Linked DNA regions of Homo sapiens: regions 2, 3 and 4 are each linked to region 1. The links come from fine-mapping of genetic effects on gene expression. A gene starts in region 1. Each other region holds a variant in brackets. All regions are shown on one strand. Distances are between the middles of the regions.

Region 1 (2,687 bases):
CATAAACTAGAGCTTCTATTTAAGCATTAAAATAATCTCAAAAGCTGGGCGTGGTGGCTCATGCCTTAAATCTCAGCACTTTGAGAGACTCAGGAGAGAGGATTGCTTGAGCCCAGGAGTTTGAGGCCAGCCCAGGCAACAAAGTGAGATCTTGCCTCTACAAAAAATTTAAAAATTAGCCGGGTGTGGTGGTGCACATCTGTGGTCCAAGCTACACAGGAGGCTGAGGCAGGAGAACTGTTTGAGCCCAGGAGGTGGAGGCTGCAGTGAACTGAGATCGTGCCACTGCACTCTAGCCTGGGTAACTGAGTGAGACTGTCTCAAAAAAAAAAAAAAAAAAAAAAAAATCTCAAAAGACCCCAGAAGATAGGACCAGACAAATGCAATAGTTTATATGATAAACTGCTGCTTTAAAGACAACATAGAGTTCAAAGACATTTGTCTCCACCCGCCAAAAAATACTTGCCAAGGAAACAACACAATAGCTAATACCTGAATGTGCCATTGTAAGAAACTTCTAGAGCTAACTGGCAAAGACCTGCTTTTATATTTAAGATAGGTAAACTATATTTTTGGAATTAAAAAGGAGGAAGAAGAATCACAGTGTTCGGGGGAATTCCTTTAGAACAGGCCATCTCTTCCCTATTCTAGGAGGCAGGCCTGGTGCTCTGGCCCTGGCTCACCTTTCTGGCCTTTCCCACCCCTCCCTGCCAAGCACCTCTGCTGCAGCCACACTGGCCTCCCCAGCAATCACGTGAATACCAGCTTCCCCCGAAATCTCATTTCCTTTAGGAAGAACTTCCCTGATCAGCACGTAAAATAGCATCGATCTTGACGCATCCTGTTTTCCTGCTTTTATTTTTCTTTATAGCAATTTCCACTTTCTGAATTTAAATGTTTATTTCTTTGTTTATTGCCTGACTCCTCTGAGATAAAAGCTCTATGAATTCAAGGACTGGGCTCACTTCTGTAGGACCTGGAAAAGCATGCCATTGACTCTTATCAAGCAGATGAAAGAAAAACATACAATAAGTGAAGTCCATAAAAAATAGAAGAACCCAACAGAAAATGGGCGAAAAAGGTGAAGAACAATGACAATTTCCTAGAGCTGCACTAATATAAATGTATGTGCATGAGGAATATTTGTATTTTTGTATAATATGTAATCCATTAAAAAAATTCCGAGAGATTCAAATGAACTAAAGTACTCGAAAATGTTTAAGCCCCCCGCGCAACAACTCTCGCGCCCCCTGTCGGCGCGCTGGTAAATTTCTGAGGATTCTCAGCAAGAGGACTGAACTCACCCTCCCTCTTTTACAAAATGTATTCTTGTCGCTATTTCATTGGCTGTACCTTTCAGACGCCCCTTTCACATTAGTCAAGCCTCCAGTCCATCACTTCCGGACCCAAGCCCTCTATTGGTCAGCTGTAGGCGACAGCAGACAGCGGGCCGCGCTCAAGCAGGAGGAGTTCCTCGGTGACGTCACAGACACTCCCCGGCTACATTCCAAGGCGTGGGCGGAGACTTCCCGCGGCCTCTGCCTTTGGGGGCGGGACAAAGCCGAGAATGAGACTTCTGATTGGGTCTGCTAGGCAAGGCGGATATCCAATTGGTCAAGCCTTGGAGGGAGGTGGGGCCGCAGCTGGGTCCTGGAGCAGAGCCGAGGAGCCCTGGGGTCCCTCAAAGTTTGTGTCTGGAGCCGTAGCGGCAAGTGGGCTTGCGGCTAAGGGATTTTCCTGGGATGAGAGCGGGTCTTCTGCCTTCATTTTGGATGCACATCCCGCTTTAGCCCCGGCAGCCTTTGGTCCGGCTCGTGTCCCTGGGGATTCTCGGATCTCCGAGGACACCGGACGGGAGCGCTTGGCCATCCTCTCTCCGGCAGAGGAGCAGACGTTTGCTTTCCAAGTGCAAAACTACAGACACGCGCGCGCACACACGCAAGCACACGCGGAGAGAGAGGAACCTTGCCGGTCCGAGGCAGCTCTGCGCGTCCCCTCCTGCGCTTAGCATCCTCGGCCCAGCGCGGCCCGCACCGCCATGGAGGTGCTGGAGAGCGGGGAGCAGGGCGTGCTGCAGTGGGACCGCAAGCTGAGCGAGCTGTCAGAGCCCGGGGACGGCGAGGCCCTCATGTACCACACGGTGAGGACCCGGCGGGCGGGGCAGGAGGGCTTTCAAAGCGGGCAAGTGTTGTCACGCGAGGAGCAGCTGGAGTCCTGGGACCCGGGAAGGCAGGGTTTGGGGCAGGGCATGGTCAGAATCAAGAGGTCCTGGGCGAGGTGTACTTTAATGTCTGAGCAGATGAAGGCGGGCAGCTGGCCCCTTTACATTTCTCATGAGAGTAATGCCACTTTGTATTCCTTTAACAATTCATGCTTTTTTCCCTGAGGCTTTTTCCATCTGTAATATCATTTGCTGTTGTTAACAGTACTGTAATGCGGGAGAGGGAGTGTGTGTTTTGAGAATAACATGCCTCCGCCTAGTTTGCTATTGATTTTTTTTTGAGGTTTTCAAAAACTGGACAAGATTAAGTAGCATTTCCTTTTCATCTGTCTCGTATTCTCTCTCCCTCTCTCCCTCCCTTCCTCTTCTTTCATATTTATATTTTAAAAAGTACACGTGTGTGTGTGTGTGTGTGTGTGTGTGTGTGTGTGTGTGTGTGTTGAAAGGGCTCCTCTACGTTAGGGAG
Region 2 (2,687 bases), 120 kb after region 1:
AATTTAATTGGAAGCATAGTTTCTATGTCATGGAAAATTGCTACAGAGCCATCTAGCTGTGTGACTGTCCTACAAAACAAAGGAGATTGTCTCTATCCTTTGATTTATGGCTTTGGCTTTGTGTCTCCTCTTCCCTTTCTAAATGAGATGCCCTGTACCTCATCCCCCTGCCAGACCTACTCACTGGGAATGCTGCTTCTTTTAGCTGGGTCTGGACATCTCCAAGTATTCCACTCCCATTCTCCATGAATCATTTTCCCTAGATGGTTATGGGTGGTAAGGGGGGAGTTTTATATTTTCAAAGCAGTGGGGGTGGTAGTTTGCCTTGTGTTTATTTGCTTTTCTATTGTTCTTCCAGCACTGTATAATTGGTATAATTTTTCAATGCACAAACTCCGAAGCTCTAAAGTCTTTATAGAAAGCCAAATTCTGTTGGCACCCATGGTTCTGGGCAACGAGAACACACACATTGTCATCTGCCACCAGCCCTGAGCACCTGGAGTGAGGGAATGTGTTGGACCCCTGTGGTCTTTTGCTAACACCTTATTATTCTGCTCTGTCCTCAGTGAGATCCAGAAACCTGCTGATCTACGAGGAACATTCTCCCCCAGAGGAGTCATCCAGCCCGGGCTCGGCTGGGGAGCTGGGGGGCTGGGATAGAGGTTCCTCCCTGCTCAGGGTGTCAGGGCTGGAGTCCAGGCCGGATGTGGATCTTCCCCATTTCATTATCTCGAATGAGACCAGCCTGGAGAAGTCAGTGCTTTTGGAGCTGCAGCAGCACCTGTGAGTCATAGAGACACAGAGCCAACTCCTCTAGTGCACTGATGGTGGGTTATGAGTCAGCAACCTGAGATGTGAGGTTGAGACTCTCCATAGGCCTGGTTCAGTCCCTCAGCTCTCTCAGGACCTATTTCCAGGACCTGGGACTGCAGAGAGTCTGTTGCTGGCCAACAGTTGCCCTGAGCAGAGATGAGGAAAAAAACCAGCGTGAGCTCCCCTATGTCTGCTGCATCAGCGGGGAGCTGGCGTGGTGGCACAAAGAAGTGCTTGAATCCCTTCCCCCACTGTCTCCATCCTCCCTTCCAAGCCACACGAGTGAATGCACAGCCCAGGTAACCACAGTGTGTTTGCTGTGCAAATCCAACTTTAAGACATGTT[T/C]CATGGCTTCAACTAGGGAGTAGATATATATTGTGCTATATGTCAATATATGTTTATGATTTATATGTAAATACACATGTGTTAATTAAAACTATACATATTATAGTTTTATACTTATAGATGTATGTTGAGGGGTACCATTTAAGAGGCACTGTGCACACATTTCCATATTGAGAACAACCTCTATTTGGCTCCAATTCTACATGAGTTGTTTCTCAGTTTCTGGGAAAAATCCCTTTGTAAACATAAAGGCTTATGCGACTGCAAGGTATTGTTGTTGTAATAGGGGAGGTCCCTGGGCCTGCATGCATGCTCCTGGTTACGTGTGACATGGTTGGTGATTTAGCTGAACTCTGCTCCTATGCCTCCCAGAAATGAGGCCGTTCCGATGTAAATGGGAAAGATTTTGTTTCAGATTCTTCAGCTTTCATCCCCTAATTCTGCAGGGGAAGGTTTATAATGAAGTACTTTTATGTGTGTACATTATACATACATATTTAACATTTACTAGCACTTACTATTTTAAGCACTTTACAGATGTGAGGCAGGTTGACTATCCCTTATCTGAAATGCCTGGGACCAGAAGTGTTATAGATTTCAGATTTTGGAATATTTGCATTATACTTAACAGTTAAGCATCCCTAATCCAAAAATGCAAAATGCTTCAGTGAGCATTTCCTTTGAGCGTCATGTCAATGCTCGGAAATTTCTAGATTTTGGAGCATTTTAGATTTTAGATTTTCGGATGAGGGCTACTGAAACAGTATCATACAAATCCTTTTAAGTATCCCATGTGGTAAGGCATCATTATTATTCCCGTCATAGAGAGACTTGCCAATGTAGCCACCGCTGGGATCTCTAGAAGACCCAGTGCCTTCTTACTTGGCTCTGGACACAGTTTCTCTTCTCTCAGCTAAGCTGTTCAAGGCCCACTTCAAATCCCATTTGTTCTGTGATGTCTCCTAGATAACAAAGCCTCCTAGCCCTCCTCTGAATGCCTAGAAATTTTCCAGGTTGTTACACAATTTAATAATGTATTTATTTTCTGTTATGGATTTATTATTATTTCAAATTAGCTCATTGTTAAAAATCTTTATCTGGATTATTAGCTCTTCTAGGCCAAGGATCAGCTCTTATCATTTTATTTTCTCCTTCCCTGAGTTTAGCATAGGGCTAAACATCCTAAGTAAATAGAATAATTTAATGCATCTCATAGCAGATCAATATCAAGCCACCATGATTATCCTTAGTAGGGTTGGGATGCCTTGGGTGTAGATAAAGGTAGGAATGTGGACTAGTGGAGAGGCTGGTAGCAGGGGACTTTGGAAACAGAGAATTGCTACTAGGAGAGAAAAGGACAAGAAACATGCCCAGGCCGTCTCACCAAGTTGCAACCCCTGAATGATTGCATCACGCTACAAAGCATGAGAATTGTAGCTAACAGCTGGTGACTAATACTTCGTTTTCCTTTTAATGCCTTCACAGGGTCAGCGCCAAACTGGAGGGGAATGAAACACTAAAAGTTGTAG
Region 3 (2,687 bases), 28 kb before region 1:
ACCCGGAACCCGGAAGCAAAGGGGTAAGAATTTCTTACCAGCCAGGGGGCCTCTCTCCCTCTGTGCACTCCAGCCGATGAGATGGTAAAAATCACTGGTTGTCTCCTCTACATGGTTTTGATCAATGGGAAAAAAGAATTTGTGTGACAAGCCTTGGGTTGTAGTGACTCTGGTGTACATGTGGTATGAATATTCATACTGTTTGACCCACTTCCCTCGCAGAAATAGCTTTTTTTGTTGCTCTTTTCCTTTGTCTTTTTCTTTCTGGGTTGTTCCGTCATAAAGAGGGGTACCGTAGGGGAGAACATGAGCCTAGAACCCCTTTAAACCCACTGTTCAAGAGCCTGCAGACTCATCAGTTTTCACAGTTCTATGTTGTCATCTGTAAAGACAAACTTTGCTGTAGGTCCCAGAAATAAAAATCAGATGAGAGTCCCCTCTCATCTTGTTTTATGGCCTTGAGAGCTTGATCTTGTGACTAGATGGGGGTACCCTCTCTTGGTCTCTGCCATCCGGACTGCATGATTTTTTTTTAAATTTTAACTTTTATTTTTGACACAAGATCTCATTCTGTCATCCAGGCTGGAGTGCAGTGGTGTGATCATGACTCACCAAAGCTTTGACCTCATCGGCTCAAGTGATCCTTCCACCTCAGCTCCCCAAGTAATTTGGATTATGGGCACGTGCCACAATGCCTGGCTAATTTTTTTTGATTTTGTGTAGAGATGGTATCTCATTATGTTGCCCAGGCTGGTCTCGAACTCCTGGGCTCAATGTTGGAGGTGGGGCCTGATGGGAGGTGACTGGATCCTGCCTCAGCCTCCCAAAGTGCTGGGATTACAGGCATTACACTGTGTCCAGGAAGAGGGCATGAATTTTTGGGTTCATATCAGGGGACCAGTCTGAAAGGACAGGGAGTCCAAGATGTAATATTTTAAGCAGCACACTCTTCATCTCAAGGGTGTCAAGCTCTTAGGGGAGTTTTGTCTTAAAAGGTCCCGTCTCTATGGGGCTTCTGTTGTGTAAACCAAAAAGTATCTGAGACAGGTCTCAATCAATTTAGAAGTTTATTTTGCCAAGGTTAAGGACATCCTTGGAAGAAATAAACATGGAATCACAGAAACAGTCTGTGGTCTGTGCCTTTCTCTAGCTGTGATTTTGAGGGCTTCAGTTTTTAAAGGGGAAAAGTGGGCTGGAGGGGAAAGAGGGAGGGTATGGTAATCCACATGTTGCAAGAGAAAAGCAGCAGGCAGGGGAATTTATGCATTCAATTTATGTATACAATTATGTATTTATCTCATGATCAGTAAATCAGCACTTTACATAAGATAAGGTGAACATAGAGTAGCTG[C/T]CTGAGGAGATGATTAACCTTTTATCTGCAGCTATCTGCTTAGGAACAAAAGGCAAGGCAACATCTTACATGACTCAGCTTTCAGGATAATTTTTTTCTTTTGGCATAATGAATTAGGGCCCCAAGTATTTATTCTCCTTTCACATTGTCTTTTGTTACTTTAAGTCTATTTCTGAGAGTAAGTTTTTAATGATCATGGGGATTGCTTCCTCGACGCCCTCCCCAGGAATACCTCTTGCTTATGTAGAAAAAAACCTGGAAAGTTACCACCTGGGCTTTCAAGAGGCTTTTGCATTGAGTTACTATTGGAACTAAGTACACCACTGAAAATAAAAAAGATTTTATACATTTCTTATTCTAAATAATTAATGGGAAAATCAAAAATTTTAAAAGGACATAGGCTAGTATCATGGCTAGCCTTAGAAATTCTCTTGATAAAATTAAAAAGAGTGAAAAAAAAAAGTTTTGACCTGAAAGTTAAAATCTTTTGCAAGTTCAAAACTGCCTGCTCTACATTCCCTCCGGGAAGATCAGTGGAGAGCACCTGATGTGGTTTGGATGTTTGTCCTCTCCAAATCTCACGCTGAATGTGATTCTCAAAGTTGGAGGTGGGACCTGGGCGGAGGGAGGGTGATTGGATTATAGGAGCAGATCCCCCATGAAGAGTTGAACACCATTCCCTTGGTGATAAGTGAGTTCTTAGTTCATGCAAGTTCTGGTTGTTTAAAAGAGTCTAGGATCTCTCTTCTTTCTCTCTCTCTCTCTCACTCACTCTTGGCATGTGACATGCTGGCTCCCTATCACCTTCTATCATCATTGTAAGTGTCCTGAGGCCTCACCGGAAGTAGATGCCAGCACCATGCTTCCTTTAAAGCCCGCAGAGCCATGAGCCAATCAAACCTCTTTTCTTTATAAATTACCCAGCCTCAGGTATTTCTTTATAGCAATGCAAATACAGGCTAATGCACCACCCCATGCCGTAGTACAGTAGCTAAGTCTCTCCCATTTGACTAATGCTGCGTGGGTTCAATACCCAGCCAGGGAATTGCCATTTATTGATCCTTTTTCCTTCCATGGACAGTTTCCGATTTCTCGTCCTGTGTTTTCCTTTCTCTGAGCTATCTCTAGGGTGATTCTGGATCGTGTAAAAATTGTTTGCCACCTCTTTGGAGATAACTCGTGCACCCATGATTAAGTCATAATTTTGATTGAGACCCTTAGAAAGATACCTTTGGTAAAGAAACTCAAAAGCCAAAAATATCGGCTGTTGTCCTGGGTAAAATCTGGTAACAGGAGACTTGAAAGAATTGTTTTTTTAAAGAGCTCTGTGGCTAAA
Region 4 (2,687 bases), 52 kb after region 1:
GGTTCTTGCGGGTGTCTGATTACATTTTTATCACTAATCAGTATATAACCTTGTTTTATGTGTGCTTCTGTTTAAAGACACCATACTTAATGTATCAATATATTGTTGGTTTATTAACATTGAGCTACAGCCAAGAGTGCTATCACCCATACCTGAACAAAGCTTATCGAACACGTGGATTTTTTTCTGTGAGGCATATCACAGCCGTCTTGTACTTAGGACACTAGATAGCACTTCAGCACTGTGCTTGGGAGGTGTTTTAGACAGCAACGTCACCAACAAAAAGCACAAAGATATGAAAAACATGGCACTAAATAGACCATGAAAAGGAACCTGCGTAATAGCCTGAGAGCTACAGCAAGAAGGCAGAGTGTGCCCTTTTTCAGCCTTAGCTGGGCACGTGCATGTCAGTGACTCAAATTTTTTGCCACTCTATGCGGATTCTCAAATGACCATGAAAGTGCCACAAGTATTGATTTTTGAGGTTACAAATACATTTTATCAATTAGACACAATTCAGAAATATGGAATCTGTGAATAGTGAGGATCAGTGTATTATTCTTCAGACTGTACCATGGCTGTACCATGAAACTAGGGATCTTGAAACTAGGGAAAGCCTCCCCAGGCCTTTGAATTACTGGAGTGGAGAAATGAAAAGGTTCCCTTTCTCCTGTAATATTGCAATTAAATGAGAATATGTGAGTCCTTTATAAAGTGTGTTTTGAGATCTAGCTTACACCTTACAACGACACAGTTTCTGATATGTCCTTTTGTTTGTTTGTTTGTTTTACTCTGAAACTAAATCATAAATGGCTCACCTTCGGATGCATACACAGACACTGCTACTCTGGTGTTTGTGGAGCCTTCGTAATACCTCCTCACTCCCCACCCCAAACAAACCAAATCCTGAAAAAAAGCACTACTACGGAGTAGCTCAGAAGCATGGGGTAGAGGAGAAACAGCCCTTTGTGTCTCAGTAGGGAACAGTGGTGATAATATCACCTTACATTTATGAGAGGCGTTA[G/A]CATTTGTGAGCTTCTTTGATGTGGTCCAGTTTCCCCAGAAAAAGACAAGTGTGGACTGATGGTAATCATACCTGACCTTACCTGAAATGACTATCAGACGTTTTGCCCTCTGGAGAAATCCAGGGTGTGAGTCTTGATCCTTTCTTTGACCAGTGCCTGTTTGGTGAGAATAGCTATCCCATTGGAAAACACAGTACCCCTCATATGACCCACAAATCCATGACAAAACCACCCACATTTTCACCATCGAAGATCAAGAAGCATATGGTGTATTGGAAAGAGTGTGGCTTTTGCAGTCAGAGGAACTGATTTTGATTTCCTAGTTCTACCCCTTCCTCAGCTGTGCAACTTTGGGTAAGTTGTAAAGCCTCTCTGAGCTTGCATTTTCTCATTGGTCTAATGGGGATAATTATGACCCCACTCATATGTCTGTTGTGAAGATTAAATAAAATAATATACTTAGCCACTTCCCTTATTATACTTCTGACAGTACCTCCGTTGACAAGGAGCTTATCAATAGATCCTTAGAGAAAATCAGTGAGTCATCTTGACAGTGACCTTTGTTTCCCAGCAACTCGGCCTGGAGTTGATCACTCTCAATAACACCATTATCAAATAACCAGTGCGGATTGGGTTTTGCATCCATGAGTGTCTAAGCAAATGTCACTATTTAATTTTATTCTTCCAAAACATGTTATTTTTCCCTGGTGTGAGAAACACAAATGTTCCAAAGTAAACATTCATGAAATATCCCTTAGATTTTTTTTCTAATCTTGATTGGGGTGTTGACAAGCTTTACGTCTGTGTTAGCTGTTGAATAAAGTCATAGAAGAGACTTGGTGAATATAACATACCCAGGTCAAAGGGGTGTGGGAAGAGGCTAGTGCAACACTGGTGTCCATTTGATCCATGGGAAAAGCGAAATATAAGGAAGTAACTTGCACAGAAGGATCTTGAAACTAGGGAAATCCTCCCCAAGCCTTTGAATTACTGGAGAAACAAAACCTAGATTCCCTCTCTCCTGATAATTTTGCAATTAAAATGAGAATACGTGAGTCCTTTATAAAGTGTGTTTTGAGATCTGGCTTACACCTTACAACGACACAGTTTCTGACATGTTCTTTTTTAAACGTCTGTGGGAAGTTAGCAAGTGAATCCCAACTGCTGGATTGCCCATCACGGGTCCGTATCAGCCTCACTGTGGCAGAGATAATGGGGTCAGCAGTTTGAATGCCGAACTCCAGGTCCAAGTGGCTATTTCCGTTTGCACTTTGATAGCTGGCATTTGCCTAAGAGAAAATGATATTTCTTTGGGCTGACTTGGCCTTTGAGATTGCCATGAGACGAGTGATCTCTGTACCCTGATGTTAGGTGTAGACTTATTTCTCAACTAGGAAGAGGGACAACTTCATGTAAACATGTTTGGAACTTTGTTCCATTCTTGTGTGAATGTCCTTTATATTTCTGATGACTCCTATGGTGTAAGTTGGTAACAGACAGCCATCCTTAAGCCTGGGATAGTCACAAAACTGATGATCCTGCTGGTTTTCATCATCATCACTGAAACTCATTTGAATGGCCAGTTGTTCATTATGTTGTGCAGGTCACAGAACAAGGACAACAAAATGCATCTGATATACCTTCTTGGAGCTTGCAGTCTAT

Direction of the effects. Positions count from the first base shown, and alleles are read on the strand shown. Sizes are in standard deviations (SD) of each study's normalised expression. Not every link is listed here.
For the expression in unexposed skin of the gene that starts at base 1,658 in region 1, C is the low allele of the variant in region 3 and T is the other (small effect, 0.26 SD a copy in GTEx).

The links.
Region 2: its variant is fine-mapped to the expression of CREB3L2 in whole blood (TOPMed, PIP 0.96).
Region 3: its variant is fine-mapped to the expression of CREB3L2 in unexposed skin (GTEx, PIP above 0.99). The same link has a PIP of 0.9 or more in sun-exposed skin.
Region 4: its variant is fine-mapped to the expression of CREB3L2 in whole blood (TOPMed, PIP 0.97).

The regions. Positions count from the first base shown.
Region 1 is chr7:138,001,057-138,003,743 of GRCh38, reverse strand. CREB3L2 (cAMP responsive element binding protein 3 like 2) reads left to right here and starts at 1,658. Exons shown (of 12, transcript NM_194071.4): 1 at 1,658-2,140. The coding sequence starts at 2,039. It overlaps LOC124901752 (a long non-coding RNA gene), which reads right to left and starts at 1,437. Exons shown (of 3, transcript XR_007060551.1): 1 at 1,354-1,437. RefSeq lists enhancers at 1,359-1,408, 1,639-1,708, 1,799-1,888, 1,437-2,034, 1,979-2,118 and 1 more.
Region 2 is chr7:137,880,508-137,883,194 of GRCh38, reverse strand. It overlaps CREB3L2 (cAMP responsive element binding protein 3 like 2), which reads left to right. Exons shown (of 12, transcript NM_194071.4): 11 at 567-783; 12 at 2,644-2,687. Among named protein-coding and RNA genes, the nearest start is that of DGKI, 35 kb to the right of the region's middle. The variant T/C (reference allele first, on the strand shown) is at 1,159.
Region 3 is chr7:138,028,823-138,031,509 of GRCh38, reverse strand. No RefSeq gene overlaps it. Among named protein-coding and RNA genes, the nearest start is that of CREB3L2, 28 kb to the right of the region's middle. RefSeq lists an enhancer at 1-270. The variant C/T (reference allele first, on the strand shown) is at 1,352.
Region 4 is chr7:137,948,776-137,951,462 of GRCh38, reverse strand. All of the region lies in intron 1 of CREB3L2 (cAMP responsive element binding protein 3 like 2), which reads left to right. Among named protein-coding and RNA genes, the nearest start is that of CREB3L2-AS1, 3.2 kb to the left of the region's middle. The variant G/A (reference allele first, on the strand shown) is at 1,025.